2 separate regions of the Homo sapiens genome follow, and region 2 is linked to region 1. The links come from fine-mapping of genetic effects on gene expression. A gene starts in region 1. The other region holds a variant in brackets. All regions are shown on one strand. Distances are from middle to middle. Region 1 holds the start of UBE2V1 (ubiquitin conjugating enzyme E2 V1). Region 2 has its middle 35 kb from the start of TRERNA1.

What was found.
Region 2: its variant is fine-mapped to the expression of UBE2V1 in whole blood (INTERVAL, PIP above 0.99).

Annotation. Positions count from the first base shown.
Region 1 is chr20:50,111,113-50,116,481 of GRCh38, reverse strand. UBE2V1 (ubiquitin conjugating enzyme E2 V1) reads left to right here and starts at 3,332. Exons shown (of 4, transcript NM_001032288.3): 1 at 3,332-3,375. The coding sequence starts at 3,354. All of the region lies in intron 5 of PEDS1-UBE2V1 (PEDS1-UBE2V1 readthrough), which reads left to right. RefSeq lists silencers at 405-561, 3,265-3,804 and enhancers at 2,413-2,980, 2,985-3,094.
Region 2 is chr20:50,073,627-50,078,995 of GRCh38, reverse strand. No RefSeq gene overlaps it. Among named protein-coding and RNA genes, the nearest start is that of TRERNA1, 35 kb to the right of the region's middle. RefSeq lists an enhancer at 4,921-5,369. The variant C/T (reference allele first, on the strand shown) is at 3,078.

The DNA.
Region 1 (5,369 bases):
TTTAGCTCAAAACCTCCCAGGCTCCACCTCCCTCATCACGGGAGAGCCAGCGGGTGACACAGGGTAAAGAGAACTGGATTCCAAAACTGATTTTACTCCTTCCTTGTTGTGTGACCTTGGAAAAGCCATCTAACTCCTCTAAGTCTCAGTTTTCTCATCTCACAAATGGAAATGGTAACAGCTACTTTGCAAGGTTCATTGAGGATTAGGTAATAATAGCAGCTAATACTTATATTGCACTTAGTGCCAAGCCCTCTTCTAAATTCTCTAGTTCTATTAACCATTTTAATCTTCCCCAAAATCCGATAAAACAAGACTCTTATCCCATCAGCTGAGTTTATCAGCTCAAGCGCAGAGCGGTGATCAGGCGCAGGCGCCGGAAGGAATCCTGCTCTGGGGACCGGCTGTGACGTCCAGGAATGGGGCAGAAACTCTTCGAGGGAGCGTGTGCGCGGGACGTACTACAACTCCCATCAGGCACTGCGCCAACGCTAGACTACAACAACCAGCATGCCTCGGGCTGTCCCGCCTAACCTCTTCCTGCGATGAGCTCGGCACGGGAATTATTATTGTCAATTTTACTTGCAAGAAGTTTCCTACAAGAGCCAAGGAATCCATGCGAGTAAACATTTACGGGCACCATAGATAAAAGGCTTGTGTTTTAATCCTCATCCTCTCCACCTGTTAGCTCTGAGTCTCAGTTTTCTCATCTCTAAAAATGGGGATATTCACAGGAGTTGCTGCATCGAGTTGTGAGGATTAAAAGTTGGATGTAACGGCTTGGTAATTATGAGCTCTTCTAGTGTCCCTTCCTCTTCCCTGTGCCCAAGGGGTTTTAGGAAAGCATTTTATCTCCACAGCAATCCTATGAGGTTGATACTACTATCCTCATAGAAGGGGAAACTGATGCCAGGAGAGGTTCAAGCGTCTTACCTGAAGTCACAAAGCAAACTGAGTGATGAAGGAAGACTTGAACCTAGAAAATTTCACTGCAAAGGTGAGTCCACCTTAGGAACCCAAATGCTTCCACTTGCTACTGATGCTTTACAGTGACCCCAAGTCCAGGGCAAGTATTTTCTGTGCTCCCCAAAGCAAACTTGTATCACGTGATACACGAAAAGTCAAGTTGCTTCACCTGTAGCCAGTGCTGGCACTTTGAGAGCTAATTATAGCTGAATTTGATGTGGTTGGAGGAATCGAGGAAGGCTTCCCTGAGGGGATGGTGCTGGATCTGAGAACTGAAGAGTGGGAACAGCACAGGCAAAGCCCCTGAAGTGGGAGAGGGCATGTGTTCCAGGGGGCTTGCAAAGGGCCAGTGTCGCCGCAGAGGTACAGAAAGTCTCAGAGGCGCAGGCTGTGCCAAGGCTATGGTGAGGCAAGTGGGGTACCTAGGGTGCAGATTTTTTTTTTTTTTTTGAGACTGAATCTCTCTCTGTTGCCCAGGCTGGAATGCAATGGTGCAATCTCAGCTCACTGCAACCTCTGCCTCCCGGGTTCGCTCGATTTTCCTGCCTCAGCCTCCCGAGTAGCTGGGATTACAGGTGTGTGCTACCACGCCCCGCTAATTTTTGTATTTTTAGTAGAGACGAGGTTTCACCATGTTGACCAGGCTGGTCTGGAACTCCTGACCTCAGGTGATCTGCCCACCTCGGCCTCCCAAAGTGCTGGGATTACAGGTGTGAGCCACCATGCCCTGCCCTAGGGTGCAGATTTTAAGGAGTCACTCACCTGCAGCGCTGTGCAAGTGCGGAGTCAGGACCTGAGTGAAAGCCCCGTTAAATCTGACCACCCCATCCTCGTCCCTGCCCTGGGTGCAGAGCCTGGTGCACAGGGTGTCCAGGCATCCTGCTTTGCCCTGGAGAGCCCTGGTTTCCACTTGTCCTGGTGAGATTATAATAAGTCCCCTTTTAATCTGATGTGTGTCCTCATTAGGTGATAATTCTATGGTCGCTCAACTTGTAAAGTTTGTATTTTATCCAGAGGGAATGGGGAGCCACTGAAGGCTTTAGCTGGAGGGTGTTTTGAGCAGATGTTGGTCTATATGGAGAATGGGCCATAGGGGAGAGAATGGAAGCTGCTGGGGTCTTCCAAGTGGGAGATAAAGGCAGCTTGCCCTGAGTGGAGAAGTGAACGGAGTGGAGAGATGCAGAGTAGGCACTGCTATCAGACAAAGGTGATGAATTGGATGTGCTGGGTGAGGGCTTCCAGCTTCCTTGTCCCTCTATGTTTAGAGTCCTGGTCCTTCTGCCAGTATTTTGCTCTGTGACCTTAAGCCAGTCCCTTCACCTCTCTCAGCCTCAGTGTCTACATCCATATAAGGGCTTCTCAGACAATTTATAATAAAGGAGGAGTACCTTCTTGGGTTTATTTATTTGCAAAAATATTTCCCAAGGGCCTTTGCACAAGCTGTTCCCTCTACCTCCTCATTGTTACGGTCTCTGCTGAAATATGACCACCTTAGGAGGCCCTTCCTGACCATCCTCTGCTGCTCTTGTCTTGGTTTATCTCTACCCTATCAGAATTATAGTTTCCTGTTTATTTACTTGCTGTCTACGACTAGAATGTAAGTCCCTGAAAGCAGGGATTTGCTTCTTCAGAGATGTCTATCCATCCCCAGCGCCTAGCACAGTGTCTGGTACATAGTAGGTGCTTAATGTTTGTTTGTTTGGTTGAATGAATGAATGAACGAATGAATGAATGAATGAATGAATGAATTGGGTAGATGGTTAGCAAATGCTTTCCCTGCCACCTTAATGCCCCTAAATCATTTAGCTGCACCCACTCCAAGCCTTCTCTGGCCGGGGAGCATCAATCCTAGGAGCCAGATCATCTGACCTGGAGGGTGATGATTCAAAAAATTTGAACCTGGAGGTTAAAATTCTGCCTGTCTCTGCCACTTAACAGCTGAGTTTAGATAAATCGCTTGATCTCTCTCGGCTGCATTTTTCACATTAATTCTGACCTTGCGGAGATGTGGTGAGGATCTAGATAGGAACTAGACAGGAAAAAGCCCCAAGCGAATTCGGCGCTTTTGTTTGAAGCTATATTTTCTTTTTCTTTCACAATCGCGCCTTCCCAAGCCTAGTCACCCCTGCCCTTCTCACTAAGCACATCACAACCTCCCTCGCACCCGATGTGTGGGGACTTGCAGGTTGCTGGGCCCTCGAGCACGCAGATATTTCCTTTCTCTAAAAGGGAAGGAAAAGAGCCTTCCAGGCCACGGGTCGTGCAGGTCTCCGGGGCGGGCGTCAGCGGCGGCGTATGTGCGTGCGCGCGCGCCTGCGCATCAGGGCCGGGGGACGGGTAAGGGGGGGGTGAAGAAGGGGCCGGCCTTCAAGCAAGAGCGACGCAAGATGGCAGCCACCACGGGCTCGGGTGAGCGGGGGCGCCGGGCCCGGCCGGCCGAGGGGGCATGGGCTTGGGCCGGGGGCCGGGGACCCTCAAAGCCTCCTGCAGCGGAGCCAGGGTCCCCGCGCCGCCTCTGTCTGCTGGGCTCCGCGGCAGCCACCGGCGCGGCCTGACCGGGGGAGGAGGAGCAGGCGGTGGCCGGAAGCACGGGCGGGGGGCTGAGGGGCCTGTGGGCGGCGCGGCGAGGCCCTGAGGCTCCCCCGGGAGGCGTGAGGGCCCTCTGTGCTGTCTGGGGGAGCCGGAGTGGGCGAGGAGCGAGCTCCGAGGCACTCCTGAGGATACCGGGGCTGGCGACTCTTAAGGGGCGATCTAGAGGTCCCCTAGAGGAGGCGCCCCACAGCGGATGGAAGTCCCATACTGGGTGCCAGGGGTGCGGCTGAGAGGGGCCTTGGGATGTCTGGAGGGGACATCAGAGAAGCCCTTCAGGCTGGATGGAAGAAACGGGATCCTGAGGGGGTGACTTGAGAGGATCCCCTATCGGTTGAGGGAACGGCTCCGGCGTTAGTTTTAGAGATGGGGTTAGCTGAGGAAATAGCTATGTTGACTAGAAAGGAGGAGCCTTGGAGCAGCTGCTTTTGGGGAGAATGAAGGGGGTCTCCGCATGATAAGTGAGAGGAGGGAAAAGGATTCAGATGCCAGAGGGACCTAATAGCGGTGATAGTGAAATGACCCCATCATTACCAGTCTCCTGTTCGAGGATACAGATGGATTGCTTCAAGTTAGGTTTCAGGGGACAAGGTCCGAGTGGGGCAGTTGGTGGAAGCCTCTGATATTGGATGAGGGAGAACAGATGAATTGGGAGCCCCGAGGATGTCTCTTTGGGAGTGGGGATTCAACTGAGGGAAGCCCCTGAAATGAGGGAGTGGAAAAGGTCGGGTTCCGGAGATGTTTCCTGTAAAGGAGAAAAGTCTCCTCTTTTTGAATTGAGTGAGGGAAGCATATCCTAGAAGTGTCTCTTCTGTGGAGACGCTCACTCTCATCGACTCCTTTAATAATTGGGACAGATATGTGGGTTCAGCTCAGAAGTTCCCCACTGGCTGATGGGAGTAGGGAGGTGAATAGATGAAATGGGAACTCTTGGGTGAGGCTGCACCCTCAGGTGCCTGGCAGTGAAGTTGGCCAAGGAGGTTCTCTCAGATGGGGTGAAAATGGGTTACCTCTCTGATGGAGGAAGCAAACAGGGCCACAGTGTTCCCCACTGTGGGGCTGCAGGGACACCAGCCTGAGTACAGCAATCATTGGCATATTTAAGGCCACAGCAGCGGCAGTGTTGGGAAGGAATTGGTGATCCATGGGAAATAGGGTGAGGGGAATTCTTTATAAATGTTGCTACTCTGCGGTCTCAAGGAGCCATACTTGCCTGATGGTTGGGGTGGGAATAAAAGAAATTGAATGTGGGGGATCTGACTGAAGTGACCCACCACAAGCTGCTGCCTTTTGAGTTTAAAACAGTGGGGTCTTCTTGCAGAATAGCGGAGACCATGAATCCTTTTACTCGATTTTGGTTTCAGCTGGAACAGTGCTGAGTCAATTCATTTACCATGACGCTGCCCCAGGCACTCCCAGAAGAGAGATTCTGAGTCAGGCCAGACTGCTGGGTAAAACTTCTCACCAGAATAACACTCCTACCGGGTCGTAATAAACGAAGGGGCCCAGTGTGCTGGTGGTAGCCAGCAATAAGGTGCTGTTGCAGCTCAGCCCTGCTTGCAGTCACTCGGTTGGCTACCTACAATCTGGGTTAACAGCTGCCCGGTTCTAACTTCTCCAGACCCTGACAGTTAAAAAGTGAGTGCTTCATAAATGGCTATGGTGATCAGATAAAATGTCAGCTGCTGTCTAGTGGAATACAAGAGCACTTGGCATGGTTTAGATAACATAGGACAGGCTTTGAGGTGCCCTAAAATGGACTTCCCAAAATTCTTTTGTCTGTTTATTCAACAGATATTTACTGAGGGCCTATT
Region 2 (5,369 bases), 37 kb after region 1:
GCCAAGATCGTGCCACTGCACTCCAGCCTGGGCGACAGAGTGAGACTCCGTCTCAAAAAATAAATAAATAATAAAATGCTGCTGGAAAACCCCAGAACAAATTCGTGGTTAAATCTAAAGGTGGCCTCTTCTGTGCTGAGTTACCCCCAAGAGGAAAACAAATCCTGTCTCAAATCCTAGAGTGTGCACTTTACCTGGCTTCCCTGGGTCACACCTCCGGTCCCCAGCCCCTGCCAGGTTTATATACCAGAGGGGATGCGGGCTGGGTGGACCTGGGCTTAAGGCCTGTGAAACAACACTCAAAACCCTCTGAGACAGTTGTTTGGATCTGTGATCTTGTGGGCACTGTGTCCCACGTTTGTGTAATTTGCTCTTCCTTGGTGGTGGGTTTACAGATGGTCTAAAGTTTATGGACAGAGTTTAAGCCTAGGGCACACAGGAAGTGCTTGTCTGAGGTTCAGATGTTGCCACGTTTTTGTTTTTGTTTTTTTTCCGAGACGGAATCTCTCTCTGTCGCCCAAGTTGGAGTGCAGTGGAGTGGTCTTGGCTCACTGCAACCTCCACCTCTTGGATTCAAGCAATTCTGCCTCAGCTTTCTGAGTAGCTGGGACTACAGGCATGCGCCACCACGCCAAACTAATTTTTTGTATTTTTAGTAGAGACAGGGTTTTACCATGTTGGCCAGGCTGGTCTTGAACTCCTGACCTCAGATGATCTGCCCCCCTCAGCCTCCCAAAGTGCCGTGAGCCACCGCGCCTGGCCAGATGTTGCCACTTTTGCCAGGTGGTTTCCCTGGGTCACACCTCTGGTCTCCAGCCCCTGCCAGGTTTGTGTACCGGAGGGGATGCATCCACTGGTAATTTTCACTGTGTGGAAACTTGTGGTGTGGGGAAACATCTGTCGTTACCTGACAAAGGTCGGGGAGACAGCAGGTGTAGAAAGCACCCCTTCTGGCTGACCAACAGCAAGCCAGCCATGGGGCCCCACTGCCCTGGATCTCTGACTGACTCTGGTCTTGGGGCAAGAGCCAGTTCCTTGGACTGCATCTCCACTGGAGAAAGTTCTCCGGCCCTCTGGGTGGGAGCACTGTTGGCTGTACTGCACCTTTAGCTGTGGTGTTGCATAACGATGTGGATGGCGTCACATAAACGGAGCGGCCCCTGCCTCTGTGCCCCTTTCCACCCTGCCTGTGGATCCCTGCTTGGCCTTTTTTTTTAGACGGAGTTTCAATCTTGTTGCCCAGGCTGGAGTACAATGGCATGATCTCGGCTCACTGCAACCTCTGCGTCCTGGGTTCAAGATATTCTCCTGCCTCAGCCTCCCGAGTAGCTGAGATTACAGGCATGCACCACCATGCCTGGCTAATTTTGTATTTTTATTAGAGACGGGGTTTCTCCATGTTGGTCAGGCTGGTCTCGAACTCCCAACCTTAGGTGATCCGCCCGCCTCGGCCTCCCAAAGTGCTGGGATTGCAGGCATGAGCCACCGCACCCGGCCCCTGCCTGGCCTCTTGCACCTCCCCTCAGAGAACCTTAGGGAGCCCAGGGACAGTCACATTCCCTCTCTTGGCCTGTCCCTTCTTGACGTCACTCCTTCATCACGGAGCCTCATGACAAAGTTCAAGATACAGCATTAGGGATTTCCTTACTTGGCAGAGGAGGAAATTCCTTTAAGAAGAGGCAGCTTGGCTGGGCTCAGTGGCTCACGCCTGTAATCCCAGCACTTTGGGAGGCCAAGGCAGGCAGATCACCTGAGGTCGGGAGTTTGAGACCAGCCTGACCAACACGGAGAAATCCCATCTCTACTAAAAATACAAAATTAGCTGGGTGTGGTGGCACATGCCTGTAATCCCAGCTACTCAGGAGGCTGAGGCAGGAGAATCACTTGAACCTGGGAGGTGGAGGTTGTGGCGAGCCGAGATCACGCCATTGTACTCTAGTCTGGGCAACAAGAGTGAAACTCAGTCTCAAAAAAAAAAAAAAAAAAAGGCAGCTTGTGAAAGCTTCATTCTTTCCAGTTTGCAAGAAACAAGCTGCTGGGGTGGGTGGATTGTACAGAGCTCTGAGCTCCAGAAGATAACAGATCAACCTCAAAGACTTCCTTGTGAGACCTGGGCAAGGTCACCTGCTAGATGCAGTCAGCTGTCACACACGGGCCAAGGTGACCTTGGGAGAGAGGAGACCTTAGGCTAGAGCCACCTCATTGCTGCTGGTGGCCCTGTCACTGTGAGAAGAAGACACGGGCCACATCCTTGGGGTTCTGATATGTGTCTGATGTTATGCAGCTGGGTGGGGACAGGTGAGTGTGAAGGTGTTACTAAGTACTGGGCACATGGGCTGAGTGAATGCCAGATCTTTCTGATTTTCCAAGGAAGCTGTGAAGGCAGATTTGTACGTGAAGTCTCCCTACATTTATGTGTCAATTAACAGAGTTGGCCAGAGGCAGTGGCTCATGCCTATAATCTTAGCACTTTCGGAGGCCAAGGCTGGCAGATCCGTTGAGCCAACAAGTTTGAGACCAGGCTGGGCAACATGGTGAAACCCCGTCTACCAAAAATATAAAAATTAGCCGGGCATGGTGGTGCACGCCTGTAATCCCAGCTACTCGGTAGGCTGAGGCAGGAGAATTGCTTGAACCAGGGATGCAGAAGCTGCAGTGAGCTGGGATCACACCACTGCACTCCAGCCTGGGTGACAGAGTGAGATTCTGTCTAAACAAAGAAAAGAAAAACAAACAAAAAAAGAGGCCGGGTGCAGTGGTTCACGTCTGTCATCCCAGCACTTTAGGAGGCCGAGGCGGGCAGATCACCTGAGTTCAGGAGTTCGAGACCAGTCTGACCAATATGATGAAACTCCGTCTCTACTAAAAATACAAAAATTAGCCAGGCATGGTGGCAGACGCCTGTAATCCCAGCTACTCGGGAGGCTGAGGCAGGAGAATCGCTTGAACCTGGGAGATGGAGGCTGCAGTGAACTGGGCTTGCACCACCGCACTCCAGCCTGGGTGACACAGTGAGACTCCGTCTCAAAAAGAAAATAAAGGGAATAGAGTGCAGGGCAAAGTCTCACCTCTGACCC[C/T]GTTCTCCCAAGGCAAGCACCAGTGTGTGAGCCTCTGAGATGGCACAGGCAGCACGCGAGCAAACGCAAGTGCAGCCAGCACCACTCCGCATTCTTTCCCCCTCCCCTCATGCACTTCCCCCACTTTTTTACGCAAATGGGAATGTGATCTCCACTTAGCTCCTCCCCGGGATATTCTTCCCAGTGCCCTGCAGAGCAGCCTTGGGGATCCGCTCCGTAGTTAAGCGCAGCACACCCAGCACATGAAGGGCCACCACCACGGTGGCCAGGCCTGGACTGCTGGGCCTGAGGTGGTCTCTGCTGCTCTGCTGCCCGCTGGCCTCAGGGCATGTGTGTGCATTTGCATACCTCTGTAGAACACAGTTCTAGGAGCAGGTTTCTCCATCCAAGGATACAGGCATATTTTATTTTATTTTATTTATTTTAATTAATTAATTTATTTATTTATTTTATATTTTATTTTATTTTATTATTTTATTTTATTTATTTTATTTTTGAGACAGAGTCTCACTCTGTTGCCCAGACTGGAGTGCAATGGCACTATCCTGGCTCACTGCAACCTACGCCTCCTGGGTTCAAGTGATTCTCCTGCCTCAGCCTCCCGAGTAGCTGGGATTACAGGCGCCTGCCACCATGCCCGGCTAATTTTTGTATTTTTAGTAGAGATGGAGTTTCATCATGTTGGTCAGACTGGTCTCGAATTCCTGAACTCAGGCGATCCGCCTGCCTTGGACTCCTAAAGTGCTGGGATGACAGACGTGAACCACTGCAGCTGGCCTCTTTTTTTTTTCTTTTTCTTTTCTTTTTTTAGATAGAATCTCACTCTGTCACCCAGGCTGGAGTGCAGTGCTGCGATCCCAGCTCACTGCAGCTTCTGCATCCCTGGTTCAAGCGATTCTCCTGCATCAGCCTACCGAGTAGCTGGGGATTACAGGCGTGCACCACCACGCCCGGCTAATTTTTGTATTTTTGGTAGACGGGGTTTCACCATGTTGGCCAGGCTGGTCTCGAACTCCTGACCTCAAATGATCCACCCGCCTTGGACTCCCATGCCCAGTGTATTTTAACTATCTCATTCATTGCAGTAGTTATTCCTTTGTCCCTCTTGCAGGTGGGCGCCTCATCTGGCTTCTTCACTGCCATGAACCCAGTGTTAAAAATAGTGTTGAAGGCTGGGCACAGTGGCTCACGCCTGTAATCCCAGCATTTTGGGAGGCCAAGGTGGGTGGATCACCTGAGATCAGGAGTTCGAGACCAGCCTGGCCAACATGGTGAAACCCCATCTCTACTAACAATACAAAAATTAGCTGGGCGTAGTGGCACGTGCTTGTAATCCCAGCAACTCGGGAGGCTGAGACAGGAGAATCACTTGAACCTGGGTAGCGGAGGTTGCAGTGAGCCAAGATCAAGCCATTGTACCAGCCTGCGTGACAGAGCCAGACTCTGTCTCAAAATATAATAATAATAGGCCTGGCGTGGTGGCTTACGCCTATAATCCCAGCACTTTGGGAGGCAGAGGCGGGTGCATCACTTGAGGTCAGGAGTTCAAGACCAGCCTGATCATCATGGTGAAACCCTGTCTCTACTAAAAATACAAAAAATTAGCTGGGTGTGGTGGTAGGTGCCTGTAATCCCAGCTACTCAGGAGGCTGAGGCAGGAGAATGACTTGGACACAGGAGGCGGATGTTGCAGTGAACCGAGATCGCGCCATTGCACTCCAGCCTGGGAGACAAGAGCAAAACTCTGTCTCAAAATAATAATAATAATAATAATAATAAATAAATAAGTAAATAAAATAAAAAATGGTGTCTAGGCCGGGCACGGTGGCTTAAGTCCGTAATCCCAACACTTTGGGAGGTGAGGTGGGAGGATCACTGAAGCCAGGAGTTCATGACCAGCCTGGCCAACATAGTGAAACCCCGTCTCTACTAAAAATACAAAAATTAGCCAGGCGTGGTGGTGCACACCTGTAATACCAGCTACTCCGGAGGCTGAGGCAGGAGAATCACTTGAACTCGGGAGGCGGAGGTTGCATGGAGCCAAGATCACACCATTGCACTCCAGCCTGGGTGACAGAGTGAGACCCTGTCTCAAAGAACAAAACAACAACAACAACAAACAGTGTCCAGCACAAAGTCTGACTGTGTAAACTGAATGAATGAATCACTCCTCAGGGCTGGGCCTGGCCTTCCTCTCTTGGTGGGTCACATGGACCTGTGAGGCCACTGGCAGTGACAAGGGAGGGGTCCCAGTGGCCCCGTGGGGCCTCCTGTTCCCTCTGCCCTGCATGC